Regions from separate parts of the Homo sapiens genome. Here all the other regions are reported to be linked to region 1. Evidence: microRNA targets listed by miRTarBase, many of them from high-throughput screens and not tested one by one. Region 1 holds a microRNA gene; each other region holds the end of a gene's coding sequence.

The links. Region 1 holds the annotated microRNA hsa-miR-6847-3p (GGCUCAUGUGUCUGUCCUCUUC, at 2,869-2,890, shown strand). A microRNA usually pairs through its seed, bases 2 to 8, with sites in the 3' UTR of a target mRNA and lowers its output. Matches are read on the target gene's strand: a 7mer-m8 pairs with bases 2 to 8, a 7mer-A1 pairs with bases 2 to 7 and ends in A, and an 8mer does both.
Region 2: the mRNA of CYB5R3 is a reported target of hsa-miR-6847-3p. Seed matches in the 3' UTR shown: 7mer-A1 at 2,435-2,441.
Region 3: miRTarBase lists CPT1A as a target of hsa-miR-6847-3p. Seed matches in the 3' UTR shown: 7mer-m8 at 1,621-1,627.
Region 4: the mRNA of DTD2 is a reported target of hsa-miR-6847-3p. Seed matches in the 3' UTR shown: 7mer-m8 at 1,423-1,429.
Region 5: the mRNA of CKS2 is a reported target of hsa-miR-6847-3p. Seed matches in the 3' UTR shown: 7mer-m8 at 3,195-3,201.

Annotation. Positions count from the first base shown.
Region 1 is chr8:144,077,050-144,081,275 of GRCh38, forward strand. It overlaps MIR6847 (microRNA 6847), which reads left to right and starts at 2,825; the gene lies at 2,825-2,893. It overlaps EXOSC4 (exosome component 4), which reads left to right and starts at 1,623. Exons shown (of 3, transcript NM_019037.3): 1 at 1,623-1,850; 2 at 2,894-3,100; 3 at 3,193-3,599. The coding sequence starts at 1,680. The coding sequence ends at 3,552. LOC124902038 (a long non-coding RNA gene) reads right to left here. Exons shown (of 2, transcript XR_007061141.1): 2 at 950-4,226. RefSeq lists enhancers at 1,335-1,384, 1,395-1,694.
Region 2 is chr22:42,616,412-42,620,637 of GRCh38, forward strand. It overlaps CYB5R3 (cytochrome b5 reductase 3), which reads right to left. Exons shown (of 9, transcript NM_000398.7): 9 at 1,429-3,534. The coding sequence ends at 3,362. Among named protein-coding and RNA genes, the nearest start is that of RNU12, 3.3 kb to the left of the region's middle.
Region 3 is chr11:68,754,226-68,758,451 of GRCh38, forward strand. It overlaps CPT1A (carnitine palmitoyltransferase 1A), which reads right to left. Exons shown (of 19, transcript NM_001876.4): 19 at 658-3,505. The coding sequence ends at 3,419. Among named protein-coding and RNA genes, the nearest start is that of TESMIN, 4.8 kb to the left of the region's middle.
Region 4 is chr14:31,444,756-31,448,981 of GRCh38, reverse strand. It overlaps DTD2 (D-aminoacyl-tRNA deacylase 2), which reads left to right. Exons shown (of 3, transcript NM_080664.3): 3 at 528-2,946. The coding sequence ends at 853. It overlaps HEATR5A-DT (HEATR5A divergent transcript), which reads right to left. Exons shown (of 4, transcript NR_110045.1): 3 at 3,248-3,338. Among named protein-coding and RNA genes, the nearest start is that of DTD2, 11 kb to the left of the region's middle.
Region 5 is chr9:89,315,510-89,319,735 of GRCh38, reverse strand. It overlaps CKS2 (CDC28 protein kinase regulatory subunit 2), which reads right to left. Exons shown (of 3, transcript NM_001827.3): 3 at 3,033-3,363. The coding sequence ends at 3,311. SECISBP2 (SECIS binding protein 2) reads right to left here and starts at 1,236. Exons shown (of 17, transcript NM_024077.5): 1 at 1,124-1,236; 2 at 1-84. The coding sequence starts at 1,159. RefSeq lists a silencer at 877-1,196 and an enhancer at 1,367-1,586.

The sequences.
Region 1 (4,226 bases):
GACAGTGAGACTCCATCTCCAAAAAAAAAAAAAAAACCTTAGCCAGGCATAGTGGCAGGTGCCTGTAATCCCACCTTCCCAGCTACTTGGGAGGCTGAGATAGAAGAATCACTTGAACCCTGGAGGTGGAGGGTGCAGTGCGCTGACATTGTGCCACGGCACTCTAGCCTGGGTGCAGAGTAAGACTCCATCTCAAAAAACAAAACAAAACAAAGAAACAAACGAAAAAAACGATGACTCAGTAAGAACAGGGACAGTAAGAGCTCAGACTGAAAGGGGAAAAGGGCTCCACAATAAGCAGAGTGGCTGTAGAGCAGAGGGTGGGGAATCCGGGGTGGCAAGTGGCAGAGGGTGGTGACCCATCATGGCCTCAGACCAGCTGCAGCAGCAGGGTTGTGGCTTGCTCACTCACTCTCATGCCTCAGTCTTTCAGGAGAGCTTAACCACCTTGGAGGGGATGCTGTGACAACTGAACTTGGGCCCCTGCAGCAGACCACATTTCCCTAGCCCGCCTGCTCTTCCTACAGTCTAATATTGACACTCCTCCCACTGAAGGGTGGGGTCCCTGTCCTCATCCCTTAAGCCTGGGCAGATCTGTCTGACTGCCTTGACCCACAGAGTGTGGCAGGAGGGACACTATGTGACTTCTGAGGTTAGGTCCTAAAAATACCATGCACATGTTGTCCACCTTGTTGTCCTGGAAGGCTACCCTTGGAACCCAGTTGCCATACTGCAAGGAAGCCCTGGTTGCATGGAGAAGCCACATGTAGGTGTGCTGCCTGACAGGCACAGATGAGGTCCTGGCCCGCCACCAGCATCAGCCACCAAAGATGTGAGGGAGAAAGCTTTAGGATGGCTGCAGCCCCAGCTACCATCTGGCAGCAACTGTAGGAGAGATCCTAAGTGCAAACTATCTAGCTGAGCCTAGATAACCCCAGATTGCAGCACATAATAATAGAATGATTTTTATTATTTGAAGCCGCTGAGGTTAAGTGGCAAGAGATAAACAGACATACAACCCCTCTCTGGAAAGGATGAGGAAATCTGCATCCTCAAAGGGAAAAGGGAGGCCCACCTGACTGCAGTGTGGAAGCTCGGTGTAAAGGGAGGGCATGAGAGGACTGGAGAGGTGCCAGGTGTGGACCATCCTGGGACACCAGCCTGGTCACTTTCCTAGGACCGCTCAATGCCTTCTCCTGTCAGTGTCGCACCCCACTGGGTTCATCCTTCCACTTTCACACTTGGGGCGCGGGGAAGGGCTGAATGCAGGCACCACTGGTCACGAGGGCGTGACTGGGCAATTCCTCCTTCGGCGGGCGCCCACCTCCTGGCACCCGTGGCACAGCTCCGGGAACGGCTGCGGGCCCAGCCGCTGCTTCCCCGATAGCGCCGCCGCAGTTCCCCGGAGACAGAAGTAGAGCCGGACCGCCGGAAACCGTAGATCCGGGGAGGTCGGGGCCGCGGTGAACTCCAGTTCACCAGGACAGGAAGTGACAGCGGAACGCCGGAAACCGCAGATCCACGGAGGTCAGGGCCGCGGAGAGCTGTAGTTCCCCGGAACCGGAAGTGATGGCGGACCTCCGGAAACCGTAGATTCCGGGCGGTCGGAGCCGCCGGGAGCTGTAGTTCTCCCGCGGCTCAGAGAAGTAGGCAGAGAGCGGACCTGGCGGCCGGGCAGCATGGCGGGGCTGGAGCTCTTGTCGGACCAGGGCTACCGGGTGGACGGGCGGCGCGCCGGGGAGCTGCGCAAGATCCAGGCGCGGATGGGCGTGTTCGCGCAGGCTGACGGCTCGGCCTACATTGAGCAGGGCAACACCAAGGCACTGGCTGTGGTCTACGGCCCGCACGAGGCGAGTGGGCGCGCGGGATGGGGAATCGTGTGGCCGTGGGAGCTGCGGGGCAGCCGGGCTGAGCGCTGGCTCGGGGACTTGAGGGGCAACGGCCGGCGCGCCTCAGTCTACACAGCCGATGCTCAGCACCGCATCTCACTCGGAGTAAACGCAAGTCCTTAGTGTGCTGCGCGGTGGTCCTGCCTTTCTCATCGGCCTCTGTCCCTGCGCCCTCCTTCCTCTTTGCGGCTCTTCAACGTGCTAGGCACTCCCCCACTCGCTCCCTCTCCTTTCAGCTCTACTCCGACGTCACTCCTTCCCAGACGACCTTATTATCCACGCGGTACTTCTCGCCCTACAATAAACCCTTTGTTTTGTGCACCTACAATCTCAAATGCCTATTTTGCTTAAGCATTTTCCCCTTTGTTTCCTCGCTGGAACATAAGCTTCCTAAAGAAAGGAACTTTACATAAAACTATCTGGTTTCATTACTGTGCTTCCAGCGCTGTAACTGCCTGGCCAGCGAAGGTATTGAAAGAGTGTTTGCTTAGCGCATGAGTGTGGGAGCTCTGCTTTCCAGGCGGAGGGAACCAGAAGGGCGAAGACCACGGTGGTGAAAACAAGCAAGGCACTTATGCAGAGCAGAAAGACTGCTGGTGGGGAAAGAGGGGATAACTCCAAATCAGGTTGAGGGTTCCCGGGGAGGTGAGGACTTAGGGTTTTGTAGAGTAGGGAAATGATTTGGGATCTTATTTCATATGTAATGTGAAACCTTTGTAAGGTAGTTAGGATTTGAGTGTGTAGGTGAGACAGAAGCAGCGTTGATGTTTGTAAACTTGGGTTGGCAGGGAATGGGGCAAGGATGGACACAAGGAAGCCAATTAAAAGGTGCCAGAGGGCGACACATGCAAGACAGAGAGCGCAAAACAGGGGGCTTTGTTTTGGAGGTAACGCAGTTGCCCCTTGCTGAGGCATTGAAAGTGGAGGGAGAGGCAGACCCACAGAGGACAGTGGAGTGTGAGCTGGAAGGAGTGGGCCTGGCTCATGTGTCTGTCCTCTTCCAGATCCGGGGCTCCCGGGCTCGAGCCCTGCCGGACAGGGCCCTAGTGAACTGTCAATATAGTTCAGCGACCTTCAGCACAGGTGAGCGCAAGCGACGGCCACATGGGGACCGTAAGTCCTGTGAGATGGGCCTGCAGCTCCGCCAGACTTTCGAAGCAGCCATCCTCACACAGCTGCACCCACGCTCCCAGATTGATATCTATGTGCAGGTGAGCCAGCTGCAGCCGTCAATCCAGGGAGGGAAGGGTGTGATGGGGTTGGGGAGGGAGTCTGATAGACTGACACCCTGGGTTCCCTGCAGGTGCTACAGGCAGATGGTGGGACCTATGCAGCTTGTGTGAATGCAGCCACGCTGGCAGTGCTGGATGCCGGGATACCCATGAGAGACTTTGTGTGTGCGTGCTCAGCTGGCTTCGTGGACGGCACAGCCCTGGCGGACCTCAGCCATGTGGAGGAAGCAGCTGGTGGCCCCCAGCTGGCCCTGGCCCTGCTGCCAGCCTCAGGACAGATTGCGCTGCTTGAGATGGATGCCCGGCTGCACGAGGACCACCTGGAGCGGGTGTTGGAGGCTGCTGCCCAGGCTGCCCGAGATGTGCACACCCTCTTAGATCGAGTGGTCCGGCAGCATGTGCGTGAGGCCTCTATCTTGCTGGGGGACTGACCACCCAGCCACCCATGTCCAGAATAAAACCCTCCTCTGCCCACACACCCCTCACTGTACGTTATCACCTAACAGCACTTCAGAGCCATGTGAAGGCTGGCAGAGCCTGGTCTGGTGCTGGCTCCTGGGGATGATTAGGGACCCTCGCCCACACATGAACGGCCTATCTCTGTGTAGCCTGATTCAAACCCTGAAGAGAACAGTGGATTAGGGGGTTTCTGTAGGGGAGGCCCTGGGTGGAAAAAGCAGCATGTCCCAGTAAGGACTCAAGGCAGCTGAGCAGGAGGCAGGGCCTGGCAAGATGAGCCAGGCCATTAGACTGAGGAATCTGTTACCCTTATTCCAGCACATCGGGGGCCCTGAGCAAAGGGCTGAGGAAGAACTCAGCTGGCTCTGGGTACCCACCCTAGGGATGTGGGGGCCATGTCCCACAACCTCTGGACTATGGTTTGGAGCCCCCTGGGCTTTTCCTGCTGCTTACCTTGGGCTCTGAAAGTACAACAGCCAGGCATGGTGGCTCACGCCTGTAATCCCAGAGCTTTGGGAGGCTGAGGCAGGCGGATTGCTTCAGGTCAGGAGTTTGAGACCAGCCTGGCCAACATGGCGAAACCCCGTCTCTACTAAAAATACAAAATTAGCTGGGAGTGGTGGCACATGCCTGTAATCCAAGCTAC
Region 2 (4,226 bases), not on the chromosome of region 1:
CCTTCCCAGACCTCTTTTCCTCACCCATAGAACGGGACCATTAAGCCTTTCCTCCCTTCCAGGCGTGCCAGGAGGAACGCGCAAGAGGTGGGAGGAGGACAGGCTGGCCAGTGGGGTCAGCTGGGCAGTGTAGGGCAGATGCGGAGGACAATTTTATTTTTATTTTTGAGACGGTGTCTCGCTCTGTCGCCCAGGCTGGAGTGCAGTGGCACAATCTCAGCTCACCACAGCCTCCGCCTCCCGGGTTCAAGCGATTCTCCTGTCTCAGCCACCCGAGTAGCTGGGATTACAGGCGCACGCCACCACGCCCGGCTAATTTTTGTATTTTTAGTAGAGACGGGGGTTTCACAATGTTGGCCAGGCTGGTCTCGAACTCCTGACCTCAGGTGATCCACCTGCTTCGGCCTCCCAAAGTGCTGGGATTACAAGCATGAGACACAGCACCCGGCCTCCTTTCTTGTTCTTTTACAACTCATTTAGAGCTGTGTTGATTTTTAAAATTCTTCGTATAGGTAGGTGATACTGCCTGTGAATTCTGCAGCGTAAAGGGCCCGTTACAACTGTTATTTTAAAGGTGTTGGCCAGGCATGGTGGCTCACACCTGTGATCCCAGCACTTTGGGAGGCCGAGGAGGGTGGGTCACCTGAGGTCAGGAGTTTCAGACCAGTCTGACCAACATGGTGAAACCCCATCTCTACTAAAAATACAAACAAATTAGCCGGTGTGGTGGTGCACGCCTGTAATCCCCAGGTATTCCGGAGACTGAGGCAATAGAACCGCTTGAACCTGGGAGGCAGAGGCTGCAGGGAGCCAAGATCATGTCACTGCACTCCAGCCTGGGAGACAGAGCGAGACTCCGTCCCAAAAATAATAAATAAAGGTGTCGAGTCTGTATGGAGAATCGCTGCCTTAGAGCCCTCTCCCATTTTCTGAATGGGGAAACAGACCTGGAGAGGGTGGGAATCGGGTCCAATTGATCCCCTTTTCCCACGTCCCCTTTCCCAGGAGGCAGCCTCTTGTGGGCTCAGGCAGGCCTGTGTTCAAATCCTGTGCCTTTCAGCCTCAGACAGGGACAGAAATGAGGATGAAACCTAACGCGTGTCCATTGCTAGCAGTCCCCCGCCACAGTGTGAAGGCCATTTTGGGTCTGAGATTCCTTTTCCTGCCACTGTAGGTAGTGAGGTGGCCAGAGACAGAATGGAAAATGCGAAGTGAGAGGAGACAGGGCTCTCCTAGTCCCCTAGGTTGGTCTTGGGCCCTCCTTCCTGTGAACCTGCCCCGTCCCCTCTTCTTCCCCACTCCCCTCCAGCCACACTGGCCTCACTGTGCTCCTAGGGCCACCCAGCAAGTCTCCGGAGCACCAGCCTAGCCCCGCCTCCCTCTCCAGCCTCATCGTTGCTGCCCCTTCCAGCCACCTATCTTCTTCGATCTGTTTCTGAAAGTTTATTCCACAAGCTGGTTCCAACGGCAGGGCCTTTGCGTCTGCTGTTTCCACCATTTGAACACCCACCCACCCCAGCATGGCCAGCTCTCTCTTCCCGTCCCAGCCCAAATCCATCTCCTTGGGGCCTTCCTGCTGCCCCGTTTTAAGAACAGCCCCACACCCACCTTGCCTCATCACCTCTGTAATTTACCACCATGCAGATGGCATCCTCTGACTTTCCTGAGCCTCGAGGCTCATCTGACCCTGACAGGAGGCAGCAGCCTCGCGGTGCATTGGGGTGACTGGGGTTGCGTGGTTTCAGCTGGTTTGCCTCTGGGGGTTGGGAATTTTTCTTCCTGTGTATACTTCTCTGCACTTTCCAAATTTTCTACCACAAAGATACATCAGAAATAAATGCTGGAGCCGGGCGCAGTGGCTCACGCCTGTAATCCCAGCACTTTGGGAGGCCGAGGCGGGCGGATCACGAGGTCAGGAGATCGAGACCATCCCGGCTAAAACGGTGAAACCCCGTCTCTACTAAAAATACAAAAAATTAGCCGGGCGTAGTGGCGGGCGCCTGTAGTCCCAGCTACTTGGGAGGCTGAGGCAGGAGAATGGCGTGAACCCGGGAGGCGGAGCTTGCAGTGAGCCGAGATCCCGCCACTGCACTCCAGCCTGGGCGACAGAGCGAGACTCCGTCTCAAAAAAAAAAAAAAAAAAATACAAAAACTAGCTGGGTGTGGTGGTGGGCACTTTTAGTCCCAGCTACTCGGGAGGCTGAGGCAGGAGAATCGCTTGAACCCGAGAGGTGGAGGTTGTAGTGAGCTGAGATCATGCCACTCCAGCCTGGGTGACAAAGGGAGACTCCGTCTCAAAAAAAAAAAAAAAAGAAAAAAAAAATGCTAGGTCTTCCCCAGCCCTTTCCTGACCCCACCCCTTGTGTTGCAGGTCACAGACCCTCGAGGAGCTAGAGAAGGGTTAATATTAGCAAAGTTTTACTTTTTTTTTTTCTGCTCATAAATGACTCTGAAAAAGCCAATACGCAAGAGGCTAACACAACTGTAGTCTAAAGGCAACGTCGAGGTCACTGATATGTCCCTCAGACAAGAGGCACTGCTCAGAATCCCCCTGTGCTGGGGGTGAGGGAAGGAGGGGACGGTTTAGGACAGAGGAATAAATACATGTGGTTGTGGGAGTTCTGCCATCAGGGATGGTGGCCCCAGCCCAGGACCCCAAAACCCTGAGGCGGTGCAGTGGGCTGCCAACCCCCCAGCTCGGGGTTCCCCAAGGCTGCCTCAGTGTTTGGATGGGCTGGAAGGAAATGCTGAGGTTCTGGGAGGGCCCCATGGCCAGCCCCCTCTTCCCACTCTAGCCAGAGGAGAGCCAAGCTCCCGGCTGGCCAGGGCCCTGGGGTAGGGAGCAGTGCCCCCAAGAGGGCTTTCTGGTGTCAATGTCTCATGCAGCGTCAGGTGGTGAGGCCTGGGCCTGGCCCTGAGGCGGGAGTGGGGGTGACAGGCGAGGCTGGGGTGGGCCCTGGCACCTGCAGCTTTGGGCTGCCCATGTGTGTCTGCTGACATCCCGACTATGGTCCACGGCCGGGAATGGTGGGCAGACGGGGCTGCTGGCAGCCCTCAGCCTTATAGTGTGTGTGGGGGGTGGACGAGGGGTCATGAGGACAGGGATGGGGCTGGGCGTCTCTGGTAAGGACCAGTAAGTGCCAGGCAGGACGTACTCTGAAGGCTCAGCCGTGGCCCATCTGGGACACAGCCCTGCTCCCGAAGGGGCTCCAGGGGAACTGCTCAGCCAGGTGATTCACCAGGGCACGGGCAGGCCAGGCTGAACCCGGGGCCCCAGTGTGCGATGTGGGGAGGTGACTGGGTGAGCGTGAACAGGGCGTGGGGTGCGCGGGGCGGGTGGCCGTGTGACCGTGCCCGGCCCTCAGAAGACGAAGCAGCGCTCCGTGGGGTGGCCCACGTGGTCCAGGTTGGGAAGGCAGGCGTACTGGATCATGGGTGGGGGGCCACACATCAGCACCAGCGGCTCCTCCTCTGGGGGTGGAAGGTGGTCCCGGATCATCTCCTCATTCACGAAGCCCTGGCCGTAGTCCCAGGCTGTGGGGTGAGAGACCAGGTAAGCTGACGTGTGGCTGTGTGGTCACCAACCTGCTGACCGACCAACCCTAGGCGGTGAATTCCTTAAATGCTGAAGAATGGAGAGGCTGATCCCAGCAAACTGTCACCAGGACCCCCTGCCCCCAACCCTGACTCAAGCCTATGGCCTCAGGCCCTGCAGCCTGAAACCAGTGTACAAAGCCCATCATGGTTCCCCTGACTGCACTTTACAGTTTGCAAAGCCTTTTGCTTCCATTTGGCCTCCGGGGTGTCCCTTGGAACAACCCAGTGGGTGGACAGGGCGGGGAATATGAATCCCATTTTACAGATGTGGCAACTGAGGCCCAGAGGACCCAGAGTTGAGTTGCTCAAGATCACACAATGAGGCAGGGACACGACTGAGATGTACCTTCCAGGATCCAGAGGTCCCCAGGCTGGTGCTCTGCCCCAGGCTGCTCAGGGTGACAGTCTCTAACTGCCCCCACCTCCATGAGCCCACTGTGACTCCCCAAGAATGTCGGCCCATGAGGAACTGAGTCTCATCCACAGCTGTGTGTCCTGCCCCCTCGAGCCCTGAGCGCCCACGATGATATGGCTGGTCTCTATCCTTAGTAACCAGAAACAACCACCCCACAGCCCTCAACACCAAGAGAAAAGCTGCTGAAGCCTCAGGCCAGGAGGGCTGGCACTGG
Region 3 (4,226 bases), not on the chromosome of region 1:
CTCATGAACAGCACCATCCCTCTTGCTACTGTCCTCACCATAGAGTGCGTGAGTTCCTGTGAGATCTGGTTGTTCGCAAGTGTGTAAGAGAGCACCTCCTCTCTCTCTCTCAGATCTGGTTGTTTGCAAATGTGTAAGAGAGCACCTCCTCTCTTTCTCTCTCTGTCTCCTTTCACCATGTAGAATGCCTGCTCCCCCTTTGCCTTCCACCATGAGTAAAAAGCTGTTTGAGGCCTCCCCAGAAGCAGATGCCTCCATGCTTCCTGTATAGCCTGCAGAACTGAGAGCCAATTAAACCTCTTATAAATTACCCAGTCTCAGCTATTTCTTTACAGCAATGTGAGAATGGCCTAATACAGGTGCTCAAGAAAAACAGAAAAATGGAATTCATGCATTACTTTTAACATATTTATTGAGCATCTTTTATGTGTCAGGCACTGTTCTCAGCATTGAGGCAATGGAATGGATGAATAAATGCACAGCAAGTGAAAATCAACAGGCTTTTCTTTCCAGCCCAGCACATGAACTTGGTGATGTCCATGGTCTCCTCCAAGGCCTTGTTTCCATATGCTGAGACTTTCCACTTTGTCTCAAGTATCTGAACTTGGTCCTTGACTTATAATCCCCTTAATATAACAAAAGAGACAGAAACAAATCTTGTAGTAGACTGGGGTTAATGTTTTATTAATGATAACCTACATTCACACTGCATTTCTAAGATTTACATCCAAAGAGCATACTGTATTTACATGCACCGGTCAGCCCAAGATAACAAATTCAAACCATGGCTGCGTTAAGACAATGGTTTGTTCCAATTAAATTAAACAGATAATACTCTTATCACCCCCCTTGGACATGTACAATAAGACCCCTCTTTCTCCCCTCAAGGAATATAAAATTGCATTGATAACTGCACTGATGAGCAACAATTACATTTGAAACATTTAAAACCTGAGAGAGAAACCCAAATATGTTTAAGCACTCACGTCTACACTCAAAATGCCCTGTGAACTCTAGTGTAACACAGATTGCTCAGTGGTCAACAGTGCATGATCTAGCTGGCTCTGATAGGGACTGACGCCGGCTGCTGGCTTTTAACGGGAAGTGCTATTCTTGCCCAGGGCAGAGAGAGCTACATCCCCGCTGCCTGCTTGACGGACAGTCAGGGGCTTTTGTTGTTGGTTTGTTTTTGCTTTTTTTTTTAGACGGAGTCTCGCTCTGTCGCCCAGGCTGGAGTGCAGTGGAGCGATCTCGGCTCACTGCAAGCTCCGCCTCCCGGGTTCACGCCATTCTCCTGCCTCAGCCTCCTGAGTAGCTGGGACTACAGGCGCCCGCCACCACGCCCGGCTCATTTTTTGAATTTTTAGTAGAGACGGGGTTTCACCGTGTTAGCCAGGATGGTCTCCATCTCCTGACCTCGTGATCCGCCCGCCTTGGCCTCCCAAAGTGCTGGGATTACACGCATGAGCCACCGCGCCTGGACGCTTTTTTTTTTTTTTTTGTCTTTTGTTTTCATTTTTTCTTGCTTTCAGGAGAAAAAAAATCTTTGGCCCATAAAGGTGGGATTTTTACATCATGAAGTATACATACATAAAACATGCATGTGGGCCGCGCATGGTGGCTCATGCCTGTAATCCCAGCACTTTGGGAGGCTGAGGCAGGTGGATCACCTGAGGTCAGGAGTTCGAGACCAGCCTGACCAATATGATGAAACCCCGTCTCTACTAAAAATACAAAAATTAGCAGGGCATGGTGTTGGGCGTGTAATCCCAGCTACTTGGGAGGCTGAGACAGGAGAATCGCTTGAACCTGCAAGGCAGATGCTGCAGTGAGCCGAGATTGCACCACTGCACTCCAGCCTGGGCAACAAGAGTGAAACTCCATCTCAAAAAAAAAAAAAAAAAAAAAGGCACGTGTTCTCCGGCAAGCACCTTCCATCGACTCCAACAGTTCAGCCATCGCTGTTGTACTATCGGGGTGCAGCACTCTGAAGGAGTCAGGCCCAACTAGAACCAAGTGGTCAAAAAAATAAATACACAATTTAAAACAATGGACAGCTAAGCTTGTCATGACAGACAGTGGGAATTTCATTCCATGATGCTTCATTTTTGCATTAAATACTGAAGATGACTCAGTGCATAATTGCTTTGTGGTCCATGAGACGCTTTCGTGAAGGCACTCCTATCTGAAGGACAGGCTGGGTGAACACCTAGCACTGTCACTTGAGACATCTTGGCTGGTCACCAAGGTGAGCCGGCATACTGTCTCCATCACCCTCTGGTGAGTCTTTCCCCTCACCGGGTGGGAGGAGAAGGCCATCCCTTGGGGTCGTGGAGCCACTCTCTCCTCACCACGGTGGGCTGCCCTCCCCTTCCTCACTTGCTAGTCCCCGCTTGGTGGCCGATGCCCTGCCCTCCTTGCTGTCACTTTGGGAAAGAGATCCTCCTGAGGCACGTGTCATGTTTTATTCTTGAGTGAATTATCTGACCATCACGGCCCTTGCTCCCCTTTTATGACATGTGCCTGTTATTTCTTTTGTTGCTTATGATGACAAGAAGGCAGTCCCGGGAGGGGAGTCTGGCACAGCTGCCCTTGGGAAGGAACTGGTGTTTCTGAGGGGGAGGGGGCTGGTGGGGTGTAGCAAATGCTTATGTACGGTTATCCATACTCAGTCAATTGTGAAGGGAACAGTATACCCACAATTCCACCCAAAGACTCTACAAAATAAATCTTTCTCTCCATCTCCCTTACATTTAGGGCCTTTCATTTTTAAGGCACTGGGTTGTGAAGACTTGAAGACATACAAGGTCAGTAAAACTGAAGACCTTGCATCCTGCTTGCTTCAAATGTGGAGAGGCAAACACAGGCTACTGGACCAGACGGGAACGGTTACCCACGGTGACAAAAGCAGGTCTCCAAAGCACAGCATTTTGGTTAGTGCATTCCAGATGTGTTAGCTACAACTGGGGACACCAACTTGAATAACACATTTTTCTTTTAACAAAACAAAAGTTTACCCTGCTTGGATGATGCTAAATGCCCTTAAGCACTAGGCCTTCGGTTGCCACTGAGAAAGCACACCATTTCCATTCCACTGTGTGTGAAGCCACAACCCTACTAATTCCTTCATTAACTCAACAAGATTTGCATCCCTTAATAAATCCAAGCCGATGCGGAGACATCAGGGGAGACTTTATCAGATGTCCCCCAAGGGAGGGCAAGTCTGGAAGTAGTGGGGTTATGCTTCACAGGGGAGAGATACTGTTCTAGGAAAAAAAAACACCCACATTTTCTGGAAGGAAAACTGAGTTTTTTTAAGAGCAGTGTTTCATCCCGAGCTAAGGTCAGGATTAATGCCTATTTTTCATTTGGTTTGCATCAGAAGAGCTCGTTTTCCTTCCCAGCAGCTCCAGTGGAATTACTTTTTGGAATTAGAACTGAGACCAAACAAAGTGATGATGTCAGTCATTGCTTCTTTCAGGTGCCTTCCAAAGCGATGAGAATCCTTTCATGTAAAAACAAAAACCAAAAACCTATTAAAACGTGGCCATCCCCACATTTCAAGCTTTTTCATTTGCAATCTGACCCAATGTTTCATTGAAATTCCTTTCTGCCAGTTCTCTAAGATCTGACCAACGTCTTAAAGCTTAACTTAGACATTCCAGAGAAATGCTGAGGGTAAAGAGATGACAGCTGATGTGTTTGTGCGGGTGTGTTGTCGATCTAAGCCTTCCCCTAATGCCAATGCGTTTATCCCACGGAAAACACAATGACCATCCTGAGCATGGTGGCTCATGCCTGTAATCCCAGCACTTTGGAATCGCTTGAGCCCAGGAGTTCAAGACCAGCCTGGGAAACATGGTGAAACCACATTTCTACAAAAAATACAAAAATCAGCCAGGTGTGGTGGCACTCCCCTATAGTCCCAGCTACTCAGGAGGCTGAAGTAGGAGGATCCCCTGAGCCCAGGAGGCTGAAGCTGCAGTGAGCCGAGATCACACCACTGCACTCTAGCCTGGGTGGCAGAGTGAGACCCTGTCTAAAACAAACAAACAAACAAACAACAAAAGAAAACCGCAGTGAACAAATAAACCCCAACTTCCTCTGTTAACAGCGACAGTGGCATGGGTTGCCAGGCTATGTACGACAAGGAAAGCAGAATATAAATAAGGGCAATGTGCCATGCTAGGGAGGAGGTCCCTTGTTCCATCCACAGAGGAAGCCGG
Region 4 (4,226 bases), not on the chromosome of region 1:
GCAGAGGTTGCAGTGAGCAGAGATCACGCCATTGCACTCCAGCCTGGGCGACAGAGTGAGACTCTGTCTCTAAATAAATACATAAATAAATAAAGCAAGCAAGCAAGCAAGCAGAATTTGGTGTGAGGAGGAGTTATCCTCATATTTTTCCAGTGGGATTTACTTACTAAATAAAAAGAACAGGAAGGTAAAATCTTCTCATGTATTCCCCCAGGGGAACAATATTTGAGGTTCCAGTGTACAGTTAATTCTTTAGACCTTTCTGGATGAACTTATTGTTAGGTTATCTTAACTGCCAATTCAGATTTAAAATATCATGCCATTTTCTGCATGAAAATTGCCTTATTTTTCATGCTTAGATTATTTAGCTTAGTGAAGCAGTATTTTAAATCTAAATAGAGACTTTGGGTTAGAGGCATGAGCTGACAAACTGAATTTTAAACATGAGATTTGCTGACTAAAAACTTGATGGTTTTCTTCATGTTTGTTTTTCACTTTAAAATGTTTTGCCTTTCTTCCTCACCCAGTTAATACACTGTTAAATGTGAAATTAAGTGAGACAGAAAATGGCAAGCATGTCTCTATATTGGATCTACCTGGCAACATTCTTATTATCCCTCAAGCTACCCTTGGAGGAAGACTAAAAGGAAGAAACATGCAATATCACTCTAACTCTGGAAAAGAAGAAGGGTTTGAACTTTACTCTCAATTTGTGACTCTATGTGAAAAAGAAGTAGCTGCTAATAGCAAGTGTGCTGAAGCTAGGGTTGTAGTGGAACATGGCACTTATGGGAACAGGCAGGTGTTAAAGCTGGACACCAACGGACCATTCACACACTTAATTGAGTTTTGAAAATGAAAAACTAGTTTCTATAGCTGTTTTCTGGTATGAAATGATCTAAAGTATAATTAGATTTTCTTCCCCTTAATCTTGAATATACTAATCTTCAGCATTTTTAGACAGGAAAATCTTGGGTTTCATATATAACTCTGCACCTGCTAATTGGATGACTTTGCCAAGTCACCTAAACTCTGGATCTCAGTCACCTTTTGTCCTACATTCCTCTACCCTTCTACTTGAAAATTTGAAATATGCTGTCTATTCACTTCATAGTCATTAAGGAAATGTTCTTAATTGTTTTTTTGTTTTTGTTTTTTTTTTGAGATGGAGTCTTGCTCTGTCGCCAGACTGGAGTGCAGTGGCGCAATCTCGGCTCACTGCAACCTCCACCTCCTGGATTCAAGCGATTCTCCTGCCTCAGCCTCCCAAGTAGCTGGGATTACAGGCGCATGCCACCATGCCCAGCTAATTTTTTTGTATTTTTAGTAGAGATGGGGTTTCACCGTGCTGGCCAGGATGGTCTCGATCTCCTGACCTCGTGATCCGCCCACCTCGGCCTCCCAAAGTGCTGGGACTACAGGCATGAGCCACCGTGCCCGGCCTCTTAGTTGTTTTTTAAAAATTATGTACATTTTAAGTATTTTGCAATGAAGAAATTCATGCAAACAAGAAAAACACATTTCTTATACCATCAAATTTGTGTAGCATGTAATAAAAATAACTATTTGTATTAAAATTAGGTAAACTTCAGCACAACCCAATTATAACTTTGTTAATTTTGTTTACTATTTCAGTTTTCTGTATTTCCATATGTAAGTCACCATTTCTTTTAATAATATGCATGAAAATGTAATATAGGGCCAAATGTGGTGGCTCATGCCTATAATCCCAGCACTTTGGGAGGCCGAGGTGGGAGGATCACTTGAGCCCAGGAGTTTGCGACCAGCCTGGGCAGAATAGCAAGACCCAGTCTCTAACATATACATATACATATAGATATATATGTAATATAGAAGGGTTATTGTGTGTTATATTACTTTCCAGGGACATTCAAATGTTTTACATTACTTTAAGAATCTTTACTTGATATAAGAACAAAGTATAAGGGTTTAAAAGTTGTTTTTATTAAACATACTATATAAATGGGTTAATGGTCTATTTTTCAGTTTTTACCAAAATCATGTGTCTCACTTTTTGTCTTCGCTTTTTAAAGAACTGGTTCATGAAATTAGTGTTAGTTCATAAATTGTTTAAGAAGTTCCTTTTCCATTGAATTAGATTGCTGTAAAAGGGAGAAAAAGGGAAGCTTCCCATAAGAATAGTTTGAAAACAAATTGACTTGTTCATTTCCATATTATCTGCTTGATGATATGGAGCCAGTGTCAATTTTTCTGTTAGTGAATGTTTTGGACTAGATGTTCCCGTCCCCAAAATTTATATGTTGAAGCCCTTATTAATGTGATGGTATCTGGAGATGGGGCTCCTCCAACCATCCCATCCTGGAACATATAAGCCAGAAAGAAAGTAGTCTCCAGAAACAGACCATGCTGACACCTTGAGTTTGAACTTCTAATCACCAGAACTGTGAGGAAATAAATTTCTGGTGTTTAAACCACCCAGTCCTATGGTATTTTGTTAGGGCAGTCTGAGCTACGACAGTGATATAAGATAGACAGCTAGTAAGGTAAACTTTTCAAAGGCAAGAGAGGAAGATATACAAGAAATTGAAAGAATAATTAAGTCAGTAAGAGGTAATATTCAGTTTTGGCAAACTCCTCTGACTTGAGTTGAAAATACTTTTTTTTTTTAAGAGTAAAAACCAAATAACTAATTCTAATTGGCAAAAAAAGGTAAATAAATAAACATCCTAAGTAGCTGCTGAAATTTCCGTTGTGTCTTATAGTTTCTTTAGGTCTGTGTTCCTAAGATGCTTAAAATTTTTATCATGAAAAATCCTATTTTCTCTATACCCTTCCTGTACTGTTCTATTTTGGAACCAGAGAATCAATAACTGGCTTGGTAATGAGCTCATTGTCCTTAACTTTTGCTTTATTGATTCACAATACACTTACTGAAATGTAATAAACTATTCATAAACTTGCAAACTCCAGTTGTCTCAAAGTTTCTCCAAAGAGGTATGTACATATTTCAAAAAGATAATGTTACCTATTTTAAACCATTTTGATTTTATGTCTAGGTGAAATGCTGACTCATAGCCCTTGATTGCTGTTTTAGAGTTTAGGCAATCCTCTTTAAAAAATGTGCTTGAGGTACCTGGGGAGAATAACAATTTCAAGTACATGAAGGGTTATTAAGCAGAAGGTGATAGGCATCTTTGCTTAATTTCCAGAGAGGCTACAACAAGGGAAAAGGCAAATGAAGTCGTGGATATGAAAATAACTATACCTTGGCTTTCTGTAGCTCTTCTGGCCCAAGGTGCTCAAAGAATCTTCAACAGATATTTTATCTTCACAGTATATGTATGATGAGGATAGCGCTGTGGAAAGTAAGACAATGCTTAAGGAATTTCCCCAAGGTCACACAAGAGGGAGGACTAATTTCTATTTTCTTGACTTTCTTGTAGTGACAGTTGTTAAAAATTGAAATTGGCCTGGGCGCGGTGGCTCACGCCTGTAATCCCAGCACTTCGGGAGGCCGAGGCGGGTGGATCACGAGGTCAGGAGATCGAGACCATCCTGGCTAACATGGTGAAACCCCATCTCTACTAAAAATACAAAAAATTAGCCAGGTGTGGTGGCGGGCGCCTGTAGTCCCAGCTACCTGGGAGACTGAGGCAGGAGAATCACTTGAACCCAGGAGGCAGAGGTTGCAGTGAGCTGAGATCGCGCCACTGCACTCCAGCCTGGGCGAGAGAGCAAGACTCCGTCTCAAAAAAAAAAAAAATTTTGAAATTGATCTTGATAAAGACCTAGCATCTCTCAATGTGGATCACTTGAGAAAGAATAGCCAATAAATTGGTTTATTTTCTAAATTAGGAGCAGACAGGATTGCACCTAATTTAGGTGCTTTCTGCCTCTGTTTTCCTAAGATTAAAGCATGTTTCAAATAGAATATCTAAATACAGGTACTATTTTATCTGCCAATTTAGAAACCTCTGGATTCAATTATAGAAAATACTATATTTTCCATTGTGTATAAGACACAATGGATATGGTTGTAATAGCTTGAGTACTTTCATATAAAGTAAAATCAAACATACTTTTACCATTCTTTCATGAGTTCAAGTCATAAAAGAAGGTATACCATTTATTTCTGAATAGTATCTGTACTAGTGATGATTTCTTGACTCCATAATGAAAGAACTAAATTTATCAGATATCAATATCAATACTATAAAATCCTTCATGCCACTTGTTTTAGAAAA
Region 5 (4,226 bases), not on the chromosome of region 1:
TGCTTCTGAGGACTCTAACCATGCCACATTGAGCCCGGCAAATCTGGGGACAAATGGTTTGACATCTGCTGATAACTTGATGCCCTGAGGAAAAATATGAGGTTTTGGCCACAAACATTCAGAGATCAAGCAAATATAAACAAACAAAAAGACCCAAGAGGTGTTCCTAATAGCCCCAGAAATGTTCCCGATGTTGTTTAAAAACTTCTGCCTCGTAAAGACAAGAACCTGCTTGCTAACGATTTCTCCCCAATGCTTTTTTTTTTGTAGAAAAGGCAGTAGTTCAAACATTAAAAGTGAAAAATGACAACGAATTCAAGTGGAAATAAAACAACACAGATTATATAGTTTAGATCTTGGAATAAGGGTGTTTTTACCACAGATTCACTTAGAAATAATAGAACTGCACACAGTACAACTACTGCAGTCAAATACACGTGGACTGTTTAACTACAGCACCCAAAACACACTGCAGACGTTTATTTCCATTACATTTTCTTGAAAAAGTTGCACAAAAGCATATGCATTTTACTCATGAACCACTAAGTCTTGCTTTATTGAAATACCAAACCTTGCTTTGCTAGAAAATATTATCACCACGAGCCTTTGAAATTTCAATTCACTAAGATTTCTTTCTTTAGTTTTTAGTGACGTAGTAAGAGATTTACTTTCACCGAGAATTTTATGGGTCTAAAAATGATGCAAGCGATCGCCAGGGCTCCATCTAGTGGTAATGCTGAGTACGTAGAGCGGAGAATGACGTTCAGAAAAACGCAGGATCCTTTAAAACAATCTATCCGTTCCCAAGAGCGCGGGAAGCTCGCCAGAGTCCCCCCGCCCCGACTGCGGGGAGCGCCGGGCTGGGCCGCAGTCACTGCGCTGGGTGACATCGCACCACAGACGCGGCGCTAACTGTGGGCGGGGTCTGTAGCCGCTGACCGCCACCCCAAGGCGGACCCGAGGCGGGGCGCGAAGATCGCGGCCACCCGGTAGGGCGCTCCCGTGCCGTCACCAGCATCCGACCCACGCCCGCTGGACCAGCCCCGTCACCGCCCGGCCGAGCCCCCAGTGCGAGGCAGGCGGACGGACTGAGGCTGCCGAGAGAGCCCCCGTCGGCCCTTACCTCGCTTTCGGGCTCCCGCGGCCCCTCCGACGCCATGCCGCGAGGCGCGGAGGAGGCCGCGTCACGGAGGCCAGCAGCGGGCCGTCGGCTTGCCGGACAGACAAAGCGTTTCCGCCCCCGCAGGCGACGCCAGGAAGTGCGTCACAGCAAAGCGACAGAGCCCGCCCTTTCTTCCGGCCGGAAGTACGCGGCGGCGGCACTGGACCTGCGCGGGCAGCACGTGGAGGCAGTGGGGCGCTTGCGGAAAATGGGGACCCCCAGGAGTCCTCTGGGCTGGGGACCCACCGTAGCTTGCGGGAGTCTTGGATCTGCCTTTTAGTGCTGGGATATCGGAGATAGTCTCCACCAAGGCAGTAGCGACTATAAACAAGAGTTAGGCCGTGATTTACTTTTCTCCCCTGGGCCTCACGAGTCTAGCGTTAGGACGGGATGGGGTAGTCTGGAAAGGCCTCTCGCTGAGGTGACCTTTGAGCAGTCACCTGAAGAGAAAGATTTACTAATAAGGAAACTGAGGAGGCCGAGATTACTCTCACCCCCGCCACTGCATTTCCCTAAAATTTCCCCAAGATTGGTGACTTACAGGAATTGCATACCCTGTAGGTCCTACAAACCTGGAAAGCCTACAAGACTCTTGATGGTATCCTAAATTTCCAGAAACCTTAAGTTTGGAAGTAGCCACAGAAAATAATTTAAAAATCGCTCGGTTTCTTTCAAAAATTAAAAAAAGTGCTAAGATATGGTCAAGAGATGGAATAGTATAATTTTCACGAGAAAAAAAAAGTTCTACACAGAGCAAATTCGTTAAATATTGAGAGAAATGTATAAAGTGCGGCAGGGATAGGAGGTTGACCAAAAGTACAGGGAAGAATGCAGAGTGGATTTCAATAGATGGAGGAGGAACTTTCCTCTCACTCAAAGGCTTGGAGGAAAGTGCAAGTGGATTTAAGGAACAGAAAATGTCAGCAAAACAGGCTATTTGAGGAATGGGGATTAGGTTGAGGCAAATTGTAGGTTTCCTCTGTCCCTTGCACAGACGTTAACTCTACCATTGAATACGAAGTATTTCAAGCAAGTAAGGCAGGTGCAGCTCCAGTTTTTTCAGATTTCTGTCCTGGTGGGTCTCAGTTCACTACACAGCCTCTAGCAGAAGTGATCCTTAGGGTCTGGTCTGGCAGGAATTTATGCTGGAAGTTTAGGGGTAGCTGTCGCCTTCCTTTCAGCACTATTGGGTCTACCCGGAAGTGTAATGAAGTTTACTTGATTTTGTCATGTTTCTGTTGGTTACCCTGGACACAACCTATGGTAGTGGCAGTAGATTTTAGGATGCTGCTAATCACAACCTTCAAAATTTATTGCCCTCATGTGTAAAGACACCCTTTCTTAACCAATGGACCTGATGTATGCTGGCTGCTCATTTAAGATGTTTCTATAGCATAGCAATTAATTAGAATAACTCCAAAACACTTTCCTAGCAGCTAAAAAGGCAAAGGTGTTTTACAGTGTTTTTGAACTTTTAAAAATGTGGTGATACTTTATAGGAAACATTATCCCTACTTTGGAAATGTAGAAGAGGATAAAAAAGAGGTTTCTCCCAAGACCACCAGTGGCCAGTGAAGTAGCCCAGATAGTATTAATTTGGGCTTTCCTGTTCTAGACAATTCTCCAGGAATTCAAGAGGTAAAATCTACTTTGGCTTTAGTTTAAACATATCCCTGGTAATTAATTTCTTCATTAAGTGAATTAAATGGTATCCAGATCATACCGCACTATTTTAAACTCATTTAACATCATCTTTAAGGTAAGTTAACTTCCTCAGAGCTAAAACTATAACACTGAAATCAATTTCAATAGTCACAAATTTCAATAGTCACAAATTAAGAAAATATACCTCAAAAACTTGAAACAGTGATAAATGCAACATACAAACTTTATTGAACAAAAGTAAACTGTTTCAGTAAACTCAAACAGGCACTTAAGAGAAAAACTGACTGGAAGAACTTTTATCTTAAACATCTTACAGTAACCTACTTGCAGTTGCATTTAACTGAGCTCTGTTGCTGTGAAGAATACAGCTCATGCACAGGTATGGATGAAAGATTTGTACATTTCTCAAGTATTCACTGAATACTACCTTATATACACATATACATTAAATTTGAAAAAGATTTGACGATCCCCAGATAAACTTCATTTTTGTTGATCTTTTGGAAGAGGTCGTCTAAAGAGAAGAATATGTGGTTCTGTGGAAAGAAAATGTTTTGAATCATTTTAATATGATTTTCATATACTCAACAGAAATTCAAAAGTATTCTCAACTAAGCCAGAATAAAATAAACTAAGTCCACTATTAATTGGTTTGAGGTATCCAAAATGATTTTTTTTTCACAGTTACTGTCTACAGTAAATAGATTAAAAGTAAAAAGATTACCTCTTTATAGGGAAAAACACCTCCTTCAAATCACCTACAGGATCTCATACTAATGCTCATCCCCATAGATTCTGTTTCAATAGGTGGGGCACAGAAATCTACACTTAAGTTCTTCAGTTGCTTTTGTATTATCTGGACTGAATTCTAATAGGATTACGTATCTCAATCCCAAGAAAGTGATGAGTCCTTTTAGAGTTTTCGATGCAATGCTTTTCTTTAACAGCAGAGTAGAAGATAGTTTTAATTCCACCTACTTCAGCTTCTATAGTATGTCTTCAAATTTTGTTCAAAGCATTATAAATGCTGTTAGATTTACTGATAATCCAAATATAAAATTTAACCCACACTGTTTTAGTCTAGAAAACCCACAAAGTTTTAGTAGAGTTTACTATTTAACACCTGAAAAACTTTTGGTTAATACCACATAATAGCATAAGGTACCCATAAGCACAGTTGAGTTCATATGCTATTACCTCATTTAAACTTCATGTGGTATATATCCTTTCAGAGGGCTGAAGAATCACTTTAAATTAAATCAATTTCCACACATAGATAAGAACACTTGTCTTAGGATATACTTATGATAAAATGCTTTGGGATACTGTTAACAATGATACAGATTTTAAAATACATTTTTTTTTTTTTTTTTTTACTTCTTACATTATTTTCCAAGTA